Linked DNA regions of Homo sapiens: region 1 is linked to region 2. A link means that fine-mapping ties the variant in region 2 to the expression of a gene that starts in the linked region. Tissue or cell type: whole blood. Region 2 holds a variant in brackets; the other region holds the start of a gene. All regions are shown on one strand. Distances are from middle to middle.

Region 1 (8,109 bases), 150 kb before region 2:
CGCTAGTGCCCAGCACAGTACACACATTAGGTGCTTAATAAATATTTATTAAATAAACAAGGCACTTTCCCTCTATACCTCTAGGCCTTATTCATCCTTTTCCTTCCCTTTACTACCAAACAACTCAGAAGACTGAGCGAGGGTAATGGCAGGAGACCCAATGTCACAGTATCTCTCCTCATAACTCTGGGCACTGCCTCTTGCCATTACAATCTTCTGAATTTCCCCTGCTCTGCCAACTCTCCTCTGTCCAGATGGTTATCCTTAAGGCTCAGGTGAGAAGGCAGTCTGTGCTTTTTCTAAACTGTAACTTGAGAGTTCAAATTCCAGTTTTGACTATTCTACAAAGATTACTTTTTATATTTATTTATTTTTTGAGACAGTCTCGCTCTGTCACCCAGGCTGGAGTGTAATGGCACAATCTTAGCTCACTGCAATCTCTGCATCCTGGGCTCAAACTACTTTCCTGCCTCAGCCTCCCAGGTAGCTGGGACTACATGCATACACTGCCATGCTAGGCTAATTTTTGTATTTTTTGTAGAGACAGGGGTCTCCCTATGTTGCCCAGGCTGGTCTTGAACTCCTGGACTCAAGCTATCTGCCTGCCTCAGCCTCCCAAAGTGCTAGGATTACAGGCGTGAACCACCCTGCCCAACAAGATAAAAAAAAAAAAAATTGTTTTGAAATTCCAAATCTTGCCAACATCACTCAGGGCTTCTCTATTTCAATCCATGGCACCCACATGTTCCAGATATTTTTGGAAATCAGTACTCCTCAGTTCACAAATCTTAATGGTTTCTTTTTGCCCTCAGGAGAAAGCTCAAATTCCTTTGACTGGCACTCAAGGCTAATTACATCTTACTCCAACTTAGCTTTGGGGCCTCATCAACCACTACTCTCCTATGCAAAATTTCTGATCCATCCAAATGGATCTCCTTATCGCCTCAAAAAAACACCCCTCACATTATTTCATCTTAGGAAAATTCTTCCTAATTTTTCTTCACCAATATGGATTATTCAAGGTCTAGCTCAAGTGACATCTTATTCTCACTGTCATTCTGGATAGCAACACACTTTGAAAACCATTAGGTAGTTCTTAATATTGATGGCTAAGATATTGTTAATTGCTGTTGTGAGGCATGAGCACAAAATGAGATGGAGGTGACAGGAAATATAGTCACTATCCTTAAACCACAAATTTTACATTCCTAACTAAACTCCTTGAAAAGCAATGACCAGCATTACTAATCTCTCTCTCCATCTCACCCGCCTCATACACCCAGCATTTGCCCAGAACATATATTCAATATCTGTCAACTGACTGATACAAATAGCTACAATCAGAATAGGGAAGGCAAAAGAAAGATTAAAAGAAACCGCTGGTGGACATCAACCACTAACTAATCAAAGGGATGTCAACTTCTCCATGTTTCAGTTTTTTCAATTATAAAATGTAGACAGTAATGCTACCTCAAAGGGCTATTCTAAGTATTAAATACTACTTATATTAAATACTGCATGTAAGTGTGTTGTGAACTTCAAAGTACTATACCAATATTTGTTGCTATTTCCCTCAAGTCATGATGTGGAAATAAGACTTGAGACAATGAAAGGCATCTGGGAGGCTGGGCGCAGTGGCTCACGCCTGTAATCCTGGCACTCTGGGAGGCCAAGGTGGGCGGATCACCTGAGGTTGGGAGTTTGAGATCTGCCTGACCAACAGGGAGAAACCCTGTCTCCACTAAAAATAAAAAATTAGCTGGGTGTGGTGGCACATGCCTGTAATCCGAACTACTCGGGAGGCTGAGGCAGGAGAATCGCTTGAACCTGGGAGGCGGAGGTTGTGGTGAGCTGAGATTGTGCCATTGCACTCCAGCCTGGGCAACAAGAGCAAAACTCTGTTTAAAAAAAAAAAAAAAAGAGGCATCTTGGAGACCAAACATGTCCAAAATAACTCTTGATTTCCACCTCTTCAAACTTGTTCCTTCCTCATCTTCCAAGTCTCCGTACCCATACACCCAATTATTCAAGCCGAAAACTTAAAAAGGCATCAATTCCTCTATTTCCTTCACTTCTATATACAATATATATTTTTAATTGAGACAGGGTCTTCCTCTATCATCCAAGCTGGAGTGCAGTGGCACAATCATGGCTCACTGCAGCCTCAACTTCCTGGGCTCAAGTGATTTCTACCACCTCATCTTCCTAGGTAGCTGAGACTACAGGTGCATGCTGCTATCCCTAGCTAATTTATTTTTATTTTTTGTAGAGATGGGGTCTCATTATGTTGCCCAGGCTGGTCTCAAACTTTTGGGCTCAAGCAATCCTCCCACCTCAGCCTCCCAAAGTGCTGGGATTACTGGCGTGAGCCACAGCGCCTGGCCCTGTATTCAATTTTTCAACCCTGTCAGCTCTACCTCTAACATCCTGTATCCATTTACTTCTCTATGCCCTGCTATGCTCTGGTTCAAACCATTATCTTTCCTGGACTACTGAGCAGTAACTTCTGACTAATTTCCCCACTTTCTATTTGTCATGTGGCTGCTTAAATGATTATAAACAAGTGCATTTGACCAACTTCCTATGTTAAAATGGCTTTCCTTGGCTGGGCACAGTGGCTCAGACCTATAATCCTAGCACTTTGGGAGGCCAAGGCGGGAGGACTGCTGTTGGCCAGGAGTTCAAGACCAGCTTGCGCAACACAGTAAGACCCAGTCTCTACAAAAAAATTTTAAGTTAGCCAACTGTGGTGGTGCATGCCTGTAGTCCTAGCTACTTGGAAGGCTGAGGTGGGACGACAGCATGAGCCTAGGAACTGGAGGTTACAGTGAGCTATGATTATACCACTGCAGTCCAGCCTGGGTGACACAGTGAGACCTTGTGTCTATAAAAAAATTTTTTAAATGGCTTCCTTTTGTATTTACAATCTAAATGCCTTTACTGCTTTATAAAAGCCTCTGCCTAACTCTCCCAGCTTCATCTCTCTCCCTAACACTCTTTCCTTTTGTTCACTTCACTGGAGTCCAACTGATTTTCTGTCCCTCAGATATTCTAAGCTTTTTCTCACATCAGGGTTTCTGACCTCATTTCTTGTATCTACAATTGTCTCTCCCTCCTGTCCATACATGGCTGGCCCTTTGTCTATGCTTACATTTTAGTTCAAATGTTAGCTATGTGAAGAGAGCATCTCTGGCCACTCTAGCTAAAGTAGTTCTGCCCCTCAATTTTTTTTTTTTAAGAGACAGGGTCTCATCTGTTGCCCAGGCTGGAGTGCAGTGGCACAATCTTGGTTCACTGCAGCCTCGACCTCCTGTGTTCAAGCGATTCTCCTCCCTTAGCCTCCTGAGTAGCTGGGGCTACAGGCATGCATTACCACGCCCGGTTAATCTTGTATATTTTGTAGAGACTGGGTCTCGCCATGTTGCCCATGCTGGTCTCAAACTCCTGGGCTCAAGGGATTCTGCCTCGGCCTCCCAAAGCGCTGGGATTACAGGCGTGAGCAACGCGCCTGGCCACCTTCAATTTTTATCATGTTTTCTTTTCCTAGCATTAACCACTTTCTGACATTATCTTGTTTACAATGCCTCCTCCACTGAAATGTACATCCCAAAAAAGGCAAGCATCTTGTCAGTCTTGTTCACAACTGTCTCCAGCATTTAGAAAAGTGCTTGGTACATAGGTACTCAACAAAATAATTTTTTGAATGAAGAGTTTGGTTCGATTCTTATCCCTTTTTTGATCAGACCAGGAAATGCCGGAACCTTAGAAGGAAGAATGGCAACTTGCCCCAAACCAATAGCAAGTCTGTGGGAGACCTGTAACTAAAACTTTGGGTCCCCAAAGATATTAAATCAGGCCTCTCGAGTTCCAAACTCAAACCCTGGATTTTGTTTGTTTTGAGACGGAGTCTCGTTCGCCCAGGCTGGAGTGCAGTGGAGCAATGTCGGCTCTCTGCAACCTCCGCCTCCCGGGGTTCAAACGATTCTCCCGCCTCAGCCTCCCGAGTAGCTGGAATTAAAGGTATACGCCACCACGCCCAGGTAATTTTTGTGTTTTTTGTGGAGACAGGGTTTCATCATGTTGGCCAGGCCGGTCTCGAACTCCTGACCTTAGGTGATTCGCCCGCCTCCGCCTCCCAGAGTGTTGGGATTACAGGCGTGAGCCACCGCGCCCAGCCCTAGGTCATTTTTTAGAGAGACATAAACCAGTGTCAGGGACACAGCCTGGACATGGTGCAAAAGACAGTAACGGAGATGCACTACGCCCCTGCCCGCCATTCATCCCTTTGGTTGAATTCAACTCATCCTGGTTGAATTCAAGTCATCCCTCTGCTTGTGAATCCTAACAGCGCTTCCGACTTAGGGCTCCACAGTCCGGGTATGCGTTGCCTAGGTTACCTCGCACCTCCGCTAGCCGGCTGAGAGCCACGCCCATCACCTCCTCTCTAAGATTTGATTGGCTGGCTTTGGCAAGGCCGAGTACTCACCTGGCAGTTCCCTCATGAGGTAAAAAGGGCCACAGCCAGCTCCTGACTTGTCCGCGCCAGGAGGAGCCGTGGCCGCGGTGGGAGGCGGGGCCGTGCCGGGTCCCCCGCCCGCAGGAGGCGGTGGCGGGGGTGGAGGCTTTCCTGGTCCGAAGCCGAGTGCGGTTGGGGGCGGTGGTGGGTCAGCCTGAGCCCCAAACAGTGCCGTGAAATTCTCCATCGTACCCTCCGCCCCGGCGCTGTCTCCGTGTCTGCCGTTGGTAATTTTCATTGGACAATGCTTTCAAGGAGTACCCCCCCGCCCTTTCTCAAGGAGCCGCTTGTCATTGGATGCCTCAGGCACCGCCTACCTTTTTTCAACAACTACTTCCGTCGCCTTATGAGAACGTTCAGGAAGTGCTATTTAACCTTATTAGAGTCTTCTGCTAGCTCTGCTTGCTACAGTCCAATAAAATGACTTAGGCGGATAAAGCGACAACTAGACTAACCAATAAAATATTAAGTTCTTTTTTGGGTTCTGACCTACCACAGCGTTCAGAGAACTACATCCGGGTTTAGAGGCCGTACGTTTGCGATATAGCCCAATAGCAGTCGTTATGGTGGGGGAGGCGGGGCGAGACCTACGACGCCGGCGAGCAGTGGCCGTTACGGCCGAAAAGATGGCGGTCTTGGCACCTCTAATTGCTCTCGTGTATTCGGTGCCGCGACTTTCACGATGGCTCGCCCAACCTTACTACCTTCTGTCGGCCCTGCTCTCTGCTGCCTTCCTACTCGTGAGGAAACTGCCGCCGCTCTGCCACGGTCTGCCCACCCAACGCGAAGACGGTAACCCGTGTGACTTTGACTGGGTGAGCCTCCCGCGTGTTAGTACCCCGCGACCTTGACTGTCCCTGCCCTTGCAGGTGTATCTGGGAACCCTGGGGTTTACCTCTCTGAGGACACCTGAGGTTCCGAGCCTGTAGCGGACTTAGAGACTATTAAGTGCAGGGTCCGAACCATCATCGAGTCTAAACTTTGTGTTTAAGATGGGAAAACGGAACATGTTAGTCGTAGCCCATGCACAACGGCCCAACAGCTTTTGACTGTTGAGTCCAGGTTTCTTTCTGTTTCACCATTGAGACTAATTAACAGCCCTATCAAAACTGTACATACACGTGTATAACGTTTTACAGTGCCGCTCATTATGTAAAGCCTCCTGAGGAGCCAGTAAGGTAGACAAGGCAAGTAGTAATATTCCTGTTTCATTGGTGAAGAAATGGATCTCGGTATATTTAGGTGACTTGCCCCAGGTCATACAACTAATGAGTGCCTGGGACTTGAAACTACTCTTCTGGCCACACTACCTGCACAACACTGTCAGCCGCTTCTTAATTCAATAAACATTTCTAGAGTGTACACTCTAGGCACTCTGCTTGATCCTGAAGATGCGAAAGTGGATAAAATTTGGGGGCTACTGTAAAGGAATTGTAAAAAATACGTTGTAAAGAAATCTTTGGGATTTCTTTGGGAAGTGTCCCAAGCTCCTTGCTGTGCTTCCTTGGTATGGGTGGAGGGACTGCTCGGAACATAAACTTAAAGCACTTTCCCTTCTGCCATATAGCATGTAGGGGCCAAGGAAAAGCTTCCCCTTTGCTCTCTGAGGGTTTGTTGAAAAATCAACCGACAAAGGGCACATTAATAGGAGAAAGGCATAGAAATTTTATTTTAACGTGCATAGCATGAGGGAATTGCAGGAGAATGACCCAGTGGGGTACAGATGCTTATATACCCTCTTTCATAGGAATATGGGAGATGGGAAAATGTGGGTGATTTTAAGGTGGATCGTAAATGATTTTTAGGGTGATTCAGTGGCCTGGAGAACATACAGTGGCCTGGGACAATGACTGTTGGGCCTGCAGAGCAGACAATGGTTTCTGACAAAAATCTGTCCAGGTGTGTTGACAGGCTTCCATCTTTCTTCTTGTACTGAAGTAAGTTAATGAAAACTCAGGGAAGAGACCAGAAGTAATTGTTGTCTTCTTTGACAGGTCTGGACTTTAGGCAGATAAGGTAGTTATCAGAGTAAAGCTGCTTCCAGTATCTGCTGGTTTCCAGGGACCTTTAATTTAAAATGATTAGCATACAGGATGCCATATTTTGGGGTGTGAGTCCCTGGTCTTCTTTATTTCCTTTGTCTGAAACTTCCTTAGAAGTTTCACTATAAGCTGAGTTGGTGTCTGTGGAGAGAGAAATCGGGCTAGTAATTGAGCGGCAAAGGATCCCATTAAACCAGCCTCTCATTTTGGGGGATAGTCCAGTTCAATTAAATTGTTGTGTCTCATTTCAGAAGATGGCATTGTAGATGAGTTCTCAAAGCTAGGCCTCTGTATATGATGTAGGCAAACAGGTATTTAATAAGAGAGACATTTCTATGGAACAAGACAAACAAAGCTTAATATCTGGTATAGTCTATAAACTAGTTTCTTTAGAGTCTGGAGGGCAGTCAATTGGGAAGATTAATAGCAATCTATTTTCCTAGATTGTAGGTTGTGTGTAAAGTTTGTCCAAATATAAGCTTTTGTGGTGATTTTTTTTTCAAAGTCACGTTGACTAGCTTTAGCTGGTAAGGCCTTAGGAAAAAGGCAGGGTTTTTAGTTTTTTGGATTTTTTTTTGAGACAAGGTCTTGCTCTGTCATCCAAGCTGGAGTGCAGTGATGTGATCATGGCTCACTGTAGTCTTAACCTCCTGGGCAAAGCCATCCTGCCACCTCAGCTTTCCAGGTAGCTGGAACCAAAGGCATGCACTACACACCTGGCTAATTTTTAAAAATTTTTTTTCAAGGTGGGGTCTCTTGATGTTGCCCAGGCTGGTCTTGAACTCCTGAGCTCAAGGGATCCTCCTGACTTGGCTTCCTAAGGAGCTGGGATTTACAGGTGTGAGCCACTGCGCCAAGCTAAAAAAGGCCGTTTTAATTTTTAGTGATTCTAAGTCAGAAGAGTGGGTGAAAAATGGAAAACATTAGTCTGGAGGTTAGCAATTTTATGAGTCCAGTTTTATTTTCATTAGACTTTGGAAATTTTTACCCAGTCCGGTGATACAGTTTCAAAGTTATCAGAAACCTTTATTTGTCAGCATTCTTCCCATGCTTTCCATGATCCTCCTTGAAAATAAGACACTTGGCCAGGCATGGTGGCTCACATCTGTAATCCCAGCACTTTGGGAGGCTGAGGCGGGTGGATTTCCTGAGCTCAGGAGTTCGAGACCAGCCTGGCCAACATGGTGTAACCCCGTCTCTACTAAAAATACAAAAAATTAGCTGGGTGTGGTGGTGGGTGCCTGTAATCCCAGCTACTCTGGAGGCTAAGGCAGGAGAATCACTTGAACCTGAGAGGCAGAGGTTGCAGTGAGCCAGGATCGTGCCATTGCACTCCAGCCTGGGCAACAAGAGCAAAGTTCTGTCTCAAAATAAATAAATAAATAAAATTAAAAAAATATATTTTATATATAATATATATGTATTAATGTGCTTTTAATACTAAAGCTGATTTTAATAAACTTTACAAACAAATCTGTCTAATCTTGATCAGCTTTGACTAGACAAGATAAAATTTCCATAAACCTTTTATAACCTCTTAGAATTTGTTTT
Region 2 (8,109 bases):
ATCTACCCATCTAAAGGGCTAATATCCAGAATCTACAAAGAACTTAAACAAATATACAAGAAAAAATCAAACAACCCCATCAAAAAGTGGGCAAAGGATATGAACAGACACTTCTCAAAAGAAGACATTTGTGCAACCAAAAGACACATGAAAAAATGCTCATCATCACTGGTCATCAGAGAAATGCAAATCAAAACCACAATGAGATACCATCTCACACCAGTTAGAATGGTGATCATTTAAAAGTCAGGAAACAACAGGTGCTGGAGAGGATGTGGAGAAATAGGAACGCTTTTACACTGTTGGTGGGAGTGTAAACTAGTTCAACCATTGTGGAAGACAGTGTGGCAATTCCTCAAGGATCTAGAACTAGAAATACCATTTGATCCAGTGATCCCATTACTGGGTATATACCCAAAGGATTATAAATCATGCTACTATAAAGACACATGCACATGTATGTTTATTGCAGCAATATTCACAATAGCAAAGACTTGGAACCAACCCAAATGTCCATCAGTGATAGAATGGATTAAGAAAATGTGGCATATATACACCATGGAATACTATGCAGCCATAAAAAGGATGAGTTCATGTCCTTTGTAGGGACATGGATGAAGCTGGAAACCATAATTCTGAGCAAACTATCGCAAGGACAGAAAACCAAACACCGCATGTTCTCACTCAGAAGTGGGAATTGAACAATGAGAAAACTTGGACACGGGGCAGGGAACATCACACACCGGGGCCTGTCATAGGGTGGGGGGATGGGGGAGGGATAGCATTAGGAGGAATACCTAATGTAATTGACGAGTTAATGGGTGCAGCAAACCAACACATATGTATACATGTGTAACAAACCTGCACATTGTGCACATGTACCCTATAACTTAAAGTATAATAATAAAAAAAACCCTAGAAAAACATAAAAAAATTAAAGGACATTATGAGAGAATGAAAAGAAAAGATATTCAATGGGAGGAATATTTGAAAATCATGTTATTTGTTAAAGGATTTTTATCTAGATTGTGTAAGAACTCTTACAAGTCAATAATAAAATGACAAATAATCCAACTAATAATGAGCACAGGATCTGAATAGACAGTTGTTTCCAAAGAAGATATCAAAATGGCCAGTAAGCACATGAAAAGGTGCTCAAGATTTTAGTTATCAGGAACATGCAAATCAAAACCACAATGAGCTACTGCTTCATATTCATTAGGATGGCTATAATAATAAAAGACAAATAATAAGTGTTGGTGAGGATGTGGGGAAATTGAAACTCTCATGCACTGTTGGTGAAAATGTAAAATGATGCAGCCACTTTGGAACAGTCTGACAATTCCTCAAAAGGTTAAACATAGAGTTTCCCTATAGCCTAGCAATTCCTCTCCTAGATATATAACCAAGAGAATTGAAAATATATGTTCATGCAAAAATTTGTACATGAATGTTAATAGCGGTATTGTTCACAATCGCTGAAAGGTAGAAACAATCCAAATATCTATTAACTGATAAATAAATAAAGAGTAGTCTAGCCATATACCCATACAATGGAATATTATTCAGCCATAAAAAGGAATGAAGTACTGATACAAGGTACTTCATGGATAAACTTAGGAACATTTTGTTAAGTGAAAGAAACCCATCTCTAACACATTTTTTTGTGATTCCACTTATATAAAATGTCAAAATAGGCAAATTATTGTGGCAGAAAGTAGACTAATTATTGCAAAGAACTGCAGGGTATAGAGGGATTGGCAGATGGTGGCTAAAGAGTACAGGGCTTCTTTTTGGGATAATGAAAATTTTCTAAAATTGATTGTGGTGATGGTTGTACAGTTCTGTAAATACACTAAAATTCATTGAATTGTATGCTTTAGTTTTATTTTATTTTATTTTTTGAGACGGAGTTTCGCTCTTGTTGCCCAGGCTGCAGAGCAATGGCAGATCTCAGCTCATGGCAACCTCCACCTCCTGGGTTCAAGCGATTCTCGTGGCTCAGCCTCCTGAGTAGCTGGGATTACAGGCACCCGCCAACACGCCCAGCTAATTTTTGTATTTTTAGTAGAGATGAGGTTTCACCATGTTGGCCAGGCTGGTCTCGAACTCCTGACCTCAAGTGATCCACCCACCTCGGCCTCTGAATTATATACTTTAAATGGGTGAAATGTATGGTATGTGACTTGTATCTAAATAAAGCTGTTACAAATAATTTTTTAAAATAATTGTTTATATTTAAGAGATATGGAGCTAGGTGAAGATGAACAAAAATTAATGAATCAAAATTCAGGTAGTCATTAGCTTTTACATGACTATCATTTCCATATATTACACATAAACACTTCTAAACTTTTCTATACCAAATTTTGACTTTCTTATTTTAGTAGACAAATAACTATTTCAAGTTACATTATGTTACTGTTGTCTGCCAGCCAATAGTTTCATTTTAGCAGTGTTGCCATCTAAATATGGCAATGTCTGTGCAGTGATTTGAACATTTTGTTGCATATTTGCCCTTATTTATAAAAGTATAGTGGAATTGGAAAAATAAAGTGCTGATGTTAATGATTTTCCAATTGTGTCAAAGGAAGCTATTATTTAGTATGCCAGAAACAGTAAATTTTGATGCTTATCAAATTTAAGCAGATCTGACAACTGTGTTCAATTATAAAAGAAAACAGTCAAACTTAAAACACATGTACAAAATGTTATAAGTATGTTGGCAAAGCTTGTGGCTAAAAATAAGGTGCAGTCATGGAACAAATGTGTGGATCTTTACAACTACGTGTAGCAGAATATTATTTTGATGTATCAGGTTTTTTTCCAGATAATATATATATTTTTTAACCTGGGGGTCCTTCCCAGTTCAAACTTGACCTCTTGGCAGCCATGCCTCGGGATAGGGTTGTTGCAGCATAGTGCAGATACCAAAGAAGTCAATCCTTGGCCTTTGAGGTTTAAAATATGTTTTGGAAACTCAAGGTAGAGATAAAAACCTTTGTGATTAAAAAGCTTTTGAACTTCAAAAGCTAGAACCATCCTGAGAATAAATTCAGAGAATAACCCAGAGAATAAACTCAGGCCTTAACCACAGGCACATGAGAATATGTGATCAGTCAGAGCCAGTTTTTCCAGTGTCTTCTTTTCTCTTAAAGACTAGAAAAAAATTCCTTAGACTTGTAAAGTGAAGACAGTCAGAGGAGAAGTGAGCTCTAAGTCTGGTGAATCTTTAAGGAGGAATCTATCCAGTGGCCCAAATTGCTAGAGCTTCTGCACCTTTTTTCGTTTTTCTTTTTTTTTTTTTGAGATAAGAGTCTTGCTCTGTCACCCAGGCTTGAGTGCAGTGGCGCGATCTCGGCTCACTGCAACCTCTGCCTCCCGGGTTCAAGTGATTCTCCTGCCTCAGCCTCCCGAGTAGCTGAGACTACAGGCATGCACCACCACGCCCAGCTAATTTTTTTGTATTTTTAGCAGAGATGGGGTTTCACCATGTTGGCCAGGATGGTCTCGATCTCTTGACCTTGTGATCCACCCGCCTCGGCCTTCCAAACTGTTGGGATTACAGGCGTGAGCCACCACGTTCGGCCGCTTCTGTGCCTTTTGAAGTGTAGACATTGAGAAGAAATGTTCGTGTGGCAGGGCCAGGCAGAGAGAGTCTGAGACAATATTCCTATGAACCCAGAGTGGCATGGGACAGTGGATGGATGTGTCCACTGCCCTCTGAGAGGGAAAAAGGAGTAGCTGAGAGCCTGGAGAGGCTTTCCTTCTGGGACATGGAGTCATAAATATGATCAACGTGGTTGGGCAGTTGGAAACCAAATGGGAATAAAGATGTTATGGTAAATGCCAATATGCAGGTATCCCTCTCTGTCCCATTCTTATTCCTTGGTACTTTGTGAACCCTGAGAGAAGGAATATGCCAAATATCATTTCAAGTAAACTGAATGAACAAGGATTTTGAGTTGCAAGGATACACCAGAAGGATTTTGAGTTGCAAGGATACACCAGAAGGATTTTGAGTTGCAAGGATACACGCCTGTAATCCCAACACTTTGGGAGGCTGAGATGGGCAGATCACGAGGTCAAGAGATGGAGACCATCCTGCCCAATCAACATGGTGAAACTCCGTCTCTACTAAAAATACAAAAATTAGTTGGGTGTAGTGGCACACGCCTGTAGTGCCAACTACTCAGGAGGCTGAGGCAGGAGAATCGCTTGAACCCGGGAGGCAGAGGTTGCAGTGAGCCAAGATTGCGCCACTACATTCCAGCCTGGGTGACAGAGCGAGACCCCGTCTCAATAAAAACATA[A/C]ATAAATAAATAAATAAATTAAATAAAATACAATCTGTTTTTAATAGTTTAAATATCTGCATATGGTGTATAACATTCAGATGTAAAATCAAGTTAAGCATTTATATCATGTTTGAGACGTCATAATTTTTTTCTCTAGCTCTATGGATTGAATTCCTTCCTTTCCTCCTTTCCTCCTTCCCCCACCAAATAAAACATTTAAGTATAAAGTTCAAATTTCAGGCATTCTACTTTCCAAAACATTTTCCAGGAAAGCATTATGTATTATTAAAGGCAGGGACTGTCTGAATGGGAAAATAGCTTTCCTACCCACCCCCCATTCCAGAATATTGCAATGAAAATGATCAAACCACTGAAGCTTCTAGTAGTTTATCAATTTTTATCATGGGCTTTTGTCCATCCAGTTGCAGCATGACCATTAGAAATAGATAAATTCGGCGGGGCACCCGGTGGCTTACACCTGTAATCCTAGCACTTTGGGAGGCTGAGGTGGGCGGATCCCCTGACGTCAGGAGTTCAAAACTAGCTTGGCCAAATTGGTGAAACGCCGCCTCTACTAAAAAAATACAAAAATTAGCCGGATGTGGTGGCAGGCACCTGTAGTCCCAGCTACTCTGGAGGCTGAGACAGGAGAATCGCTTGAACCTGGGAGGTGGAGGTTGCAGGGAGCCAAGATCGTGCCATTGCACTCCAGCTTGGGCAACAAGAGTGCAACTCCATCTCAAAAAAGAAAAGAAAAGAAAAGAAATGGATAAATTCATTGCAGTCTGTTCATTTACTGTCTTGGGGCAAACACTCAGTTAGTGGGCCTTATTCCTTTGCTACTGAGGAGAAAGATGGAGCCTGGGTCTCAAGCCCACCTTTGCTGTACCTTTGCCAAATGGTACTGTATGCTTGCCGGCTAGAAGGAGGGTGAGGGATTTTTTTACAGCCTGAGAATGAGTGTGTGTGAGTGAGGTGGTATCCACATTCTTACATTCTTTTTTTGTTTTGTTTTGTTTTTGAGACAGAGTCTCACTCTGTTGCCCAGGCTGGAGTGCAGTGGCGCGATCTCCACTCACCGCAACATCCACCTCGCAGGTGCAAGCAATTCTCCTGCCTCAGCCTCCTGAGGAGCTGGGATTACAGGCGCCTGCCACCACCCCCGGCTAGTTTTTGTATTTTTAGTAGATACGGGGTTTCACCATTTTGGCCAGGCTGGTCTCGATCTCCTGACCTCAGGTGATCCATCTGCCTTGGCCTCCCAAAGTGCTGAGATTACAGGCATGAGCCACCACCGTGCCCCGCCTGAGCCAACACTGCACCCGGCCATTCTTAACTCCAAGTCATTGCAGTTTCTTTTTCCCAGAAAACAAGGGGTTAGATGTTGCATTTCATAAAACTAACCAAAGTTCTGTTTACTGATGCAGCACAAGAGATGTAAAAAAAAAAAAAAAGGTAGTGGGCCTTATTATATCATTATAGTGAGAATAGCCCTGGATTTTGAGTCTAAATGGTTTCAGTTCTTTGTCATCTTTGTGGTCTTCATTTTTGTTTCTGTCTTTATACATATTTTTAAATAAAACATCATTAAAACTATATAGTTCAAAAATATTATTTTTCTTTTTAAAAAATTTATAATAGAGACGGGATTTCACCATGTTGCCCAGGCTAGTCTTGAACTCCTGGGCTCAAGTGATCCACTTGCCTCGGTCTCCCAAAGTGGTGGGATTACAGGCGTGAGCCACCGTGCCTGGCCTCAAAATATTATTAATTATAAAATATATGATACATACAAAAGTGTATTAAAACCTCTGGCATTTAAAGAATATTGCTAAAATAAACACCCATTTTTGTACCATCCACCTTAGAAATAGAACTTTACAAATATCTTTAATAGCTTATGAATCACCTGGGGATCATTTTAAAGTGTGGATTCTGATTTAGTAGGTGTGTGAAAGAGTCTGAGATTCTGTATTTCTAACAGGCTACCAAGTGACCCAGATACCAGTGGGCCAAGGATCACGCGTGGAGTAGCATGATCTGAGATGGCTCCCGTGTGCTTCTCCTAATTCTATCCCTTTTATCTCCATAAGAGGTAGACACTTTCTTAAATTTTGCATCAATTATTCCTTGTTTTATTTTAAATAGTTTATCTGTAATACATTTTTAAACATTATAACTGTTTAGTTTTGCCTATTTTAAAATTTTATACAAATGAAAAAATAAGTTGTACATTCTCTGTGACTTGCTTATTTTATTCAATCTTGTGTTTTACAGCCACATTCATGTTGATGCGGAGACCTGTAGTTCATTAATTTTTGCCACTTGTTAGTTTCTGATGTATGAATAGCCTCTTTTTTTTTTTTTTTTTTTGAGACTGAGTTTCATGCTATTGCCCAGGCTGGAGTGCAGTGGCGCGATCTTGGCTCACTGCAACCTCCGCCTCCCAGGTTCGAGCAATTCTCCTGTCTCAGCACCCCCCTAGTAGCTGAGATTACAGGTGCCTGCCACCATGCCTGGCTAATTTTTGTATTTTTAGTAGAGATGGGGTTTCGCCATGTTGGCCAGGCTGGTATCGAACTCCTGACCTCAGGTGATCCACCCGCCTCGGCCTCCCGAAGTGCTGAGATTACAGGCATGAGCCACCGCGCTTGGCCATGAATAGGGCCTATCTTATGCATGAATTTCTATTGTTGATGGACATTTGGTTGCTTTCACTTTTTTGCTATGACAAACAAATTTCTGGTACATGTTTTACAGTGCAAATGTGCCAGAACTTCTTTAGATTATATGCCTACGAATAGAACTGCAGGATCATAGAGTATATATATCTTCAATGTTTATTTTGATGCTAAATTGTTGTTGAAAGTGGTCAATCCAATTCACACCCCACCCCACATTCCACATCCACTAACACTGGGCTGGTCAGATTTTTTTGGAGATTAGGTGGCTGTAAAAGTGTATTTTGGTATGGAATCAACCTGGGTGTTCTACAACAGGTGAATGGATAAAGAAAATTGGTATGTATACACAATGGAATATTATTCAGCCATAAAAAAGGATGAAACCCTGTTATTCCTGGCAACATGGATGGAACTGGAGGACATTATGTAAAGTGAAATAAGCCAGGCACAGAGAGTTAAAAACCATATGTTCTTACTCATATGTAGAAGCTAAAAAAAGTTGATCTCATAGGAGTAAAAAGTAGAACAGAGGGTACTAGAGGCTGGGATGGGTAGGGAAAAGGGAGGAATAGGGAGAGATTAAAGGCTACAAAATTACAGCTAGTTAGGAGGAATAAATTCTAGTGTCCTATACCACTATAGGATGACTATAGTTAACAATAATATATAGTTTCAAATAGCTAGAGGGAGGATATTGAACATTCTCAACACAAACAATTGATAAATGTTTGAGGTGATGGATAAGCTAATTACCCTGATCTGATCACTGTACATTATGTGTATCGAAACATCAGTATGTGCCCCCATTAATATGTACAATTGTTATTCGTCAATTAAAAAATTAAACAAAAACAAACCACATTGCTTACCAAAAGCCAAGAAAGTGTATCTTGAGATTTTTAATTGCTACTTCAAAAAATGAGATTTTCATGTTTATTAGCTAACCAGGTCCTTCATATCTTTACTAGCTGTGAGAACTCATATGAACTGCTTAACTTTTTTGCCATTATCAAAATTACTTAGTTTACTTTTAGATATCACTTTGGCCAGTTTTGCTGGGGAGAGGTCACTATTCCCATAGTGACCTATTCCTTCCTATCATCCCACTTCCCACATTAGGTAACATGATG

The links. PIP is the estimated chance that this variant, and not a neighbour inherited with it, causes the effect.
Region 1: MED19 starts here. The variant in region 2 is fine-mapped to the expression of MED19 in whole blood (INTERVAL, PIP 0.98).

The regions. Positions count from the first base shown.
Region 1 is chr11:57,707,477-57,715,585 of GRCh38, forward strand. It overlaps MED19 (mediator complex subunit 19), which reads right to left and starts at 4,739. Exons shown (of 5, transcript NM_001317078.4): 1 at 4,487-4,739. The coding sequence starts at 4,703. It overlaps TMX2 (thioredoxin related transmembrane protein 2), which reads left to right and starts at 5,117. Exons shown (of 8, transcript NM_015959.4): 1 at 5,117-5,331. The coding sequence starts at 5,143. TMX2-CTNND1 (TMX2-CTNND1 readthrough (NMD candidate)) reads left to right here and starts at 5,047. Exons shown (of 21, transcript NR_037646.1): 1 at 5,047-5,331. RefSeq lists a silencer at 4,370-4,709 and an enhancer at 8,077-8,109.
Region 2 is chr11:57,853,083-57,861,191 of GRCh38, forward strand. No RefSeq gene overlaps it. Among named protein-coding and RNA genes, the nearest start is that of CTNND1, 95 kb to the left of the region's middle. The variant A/C (reference allele first, on the strand shown) is at 4,314.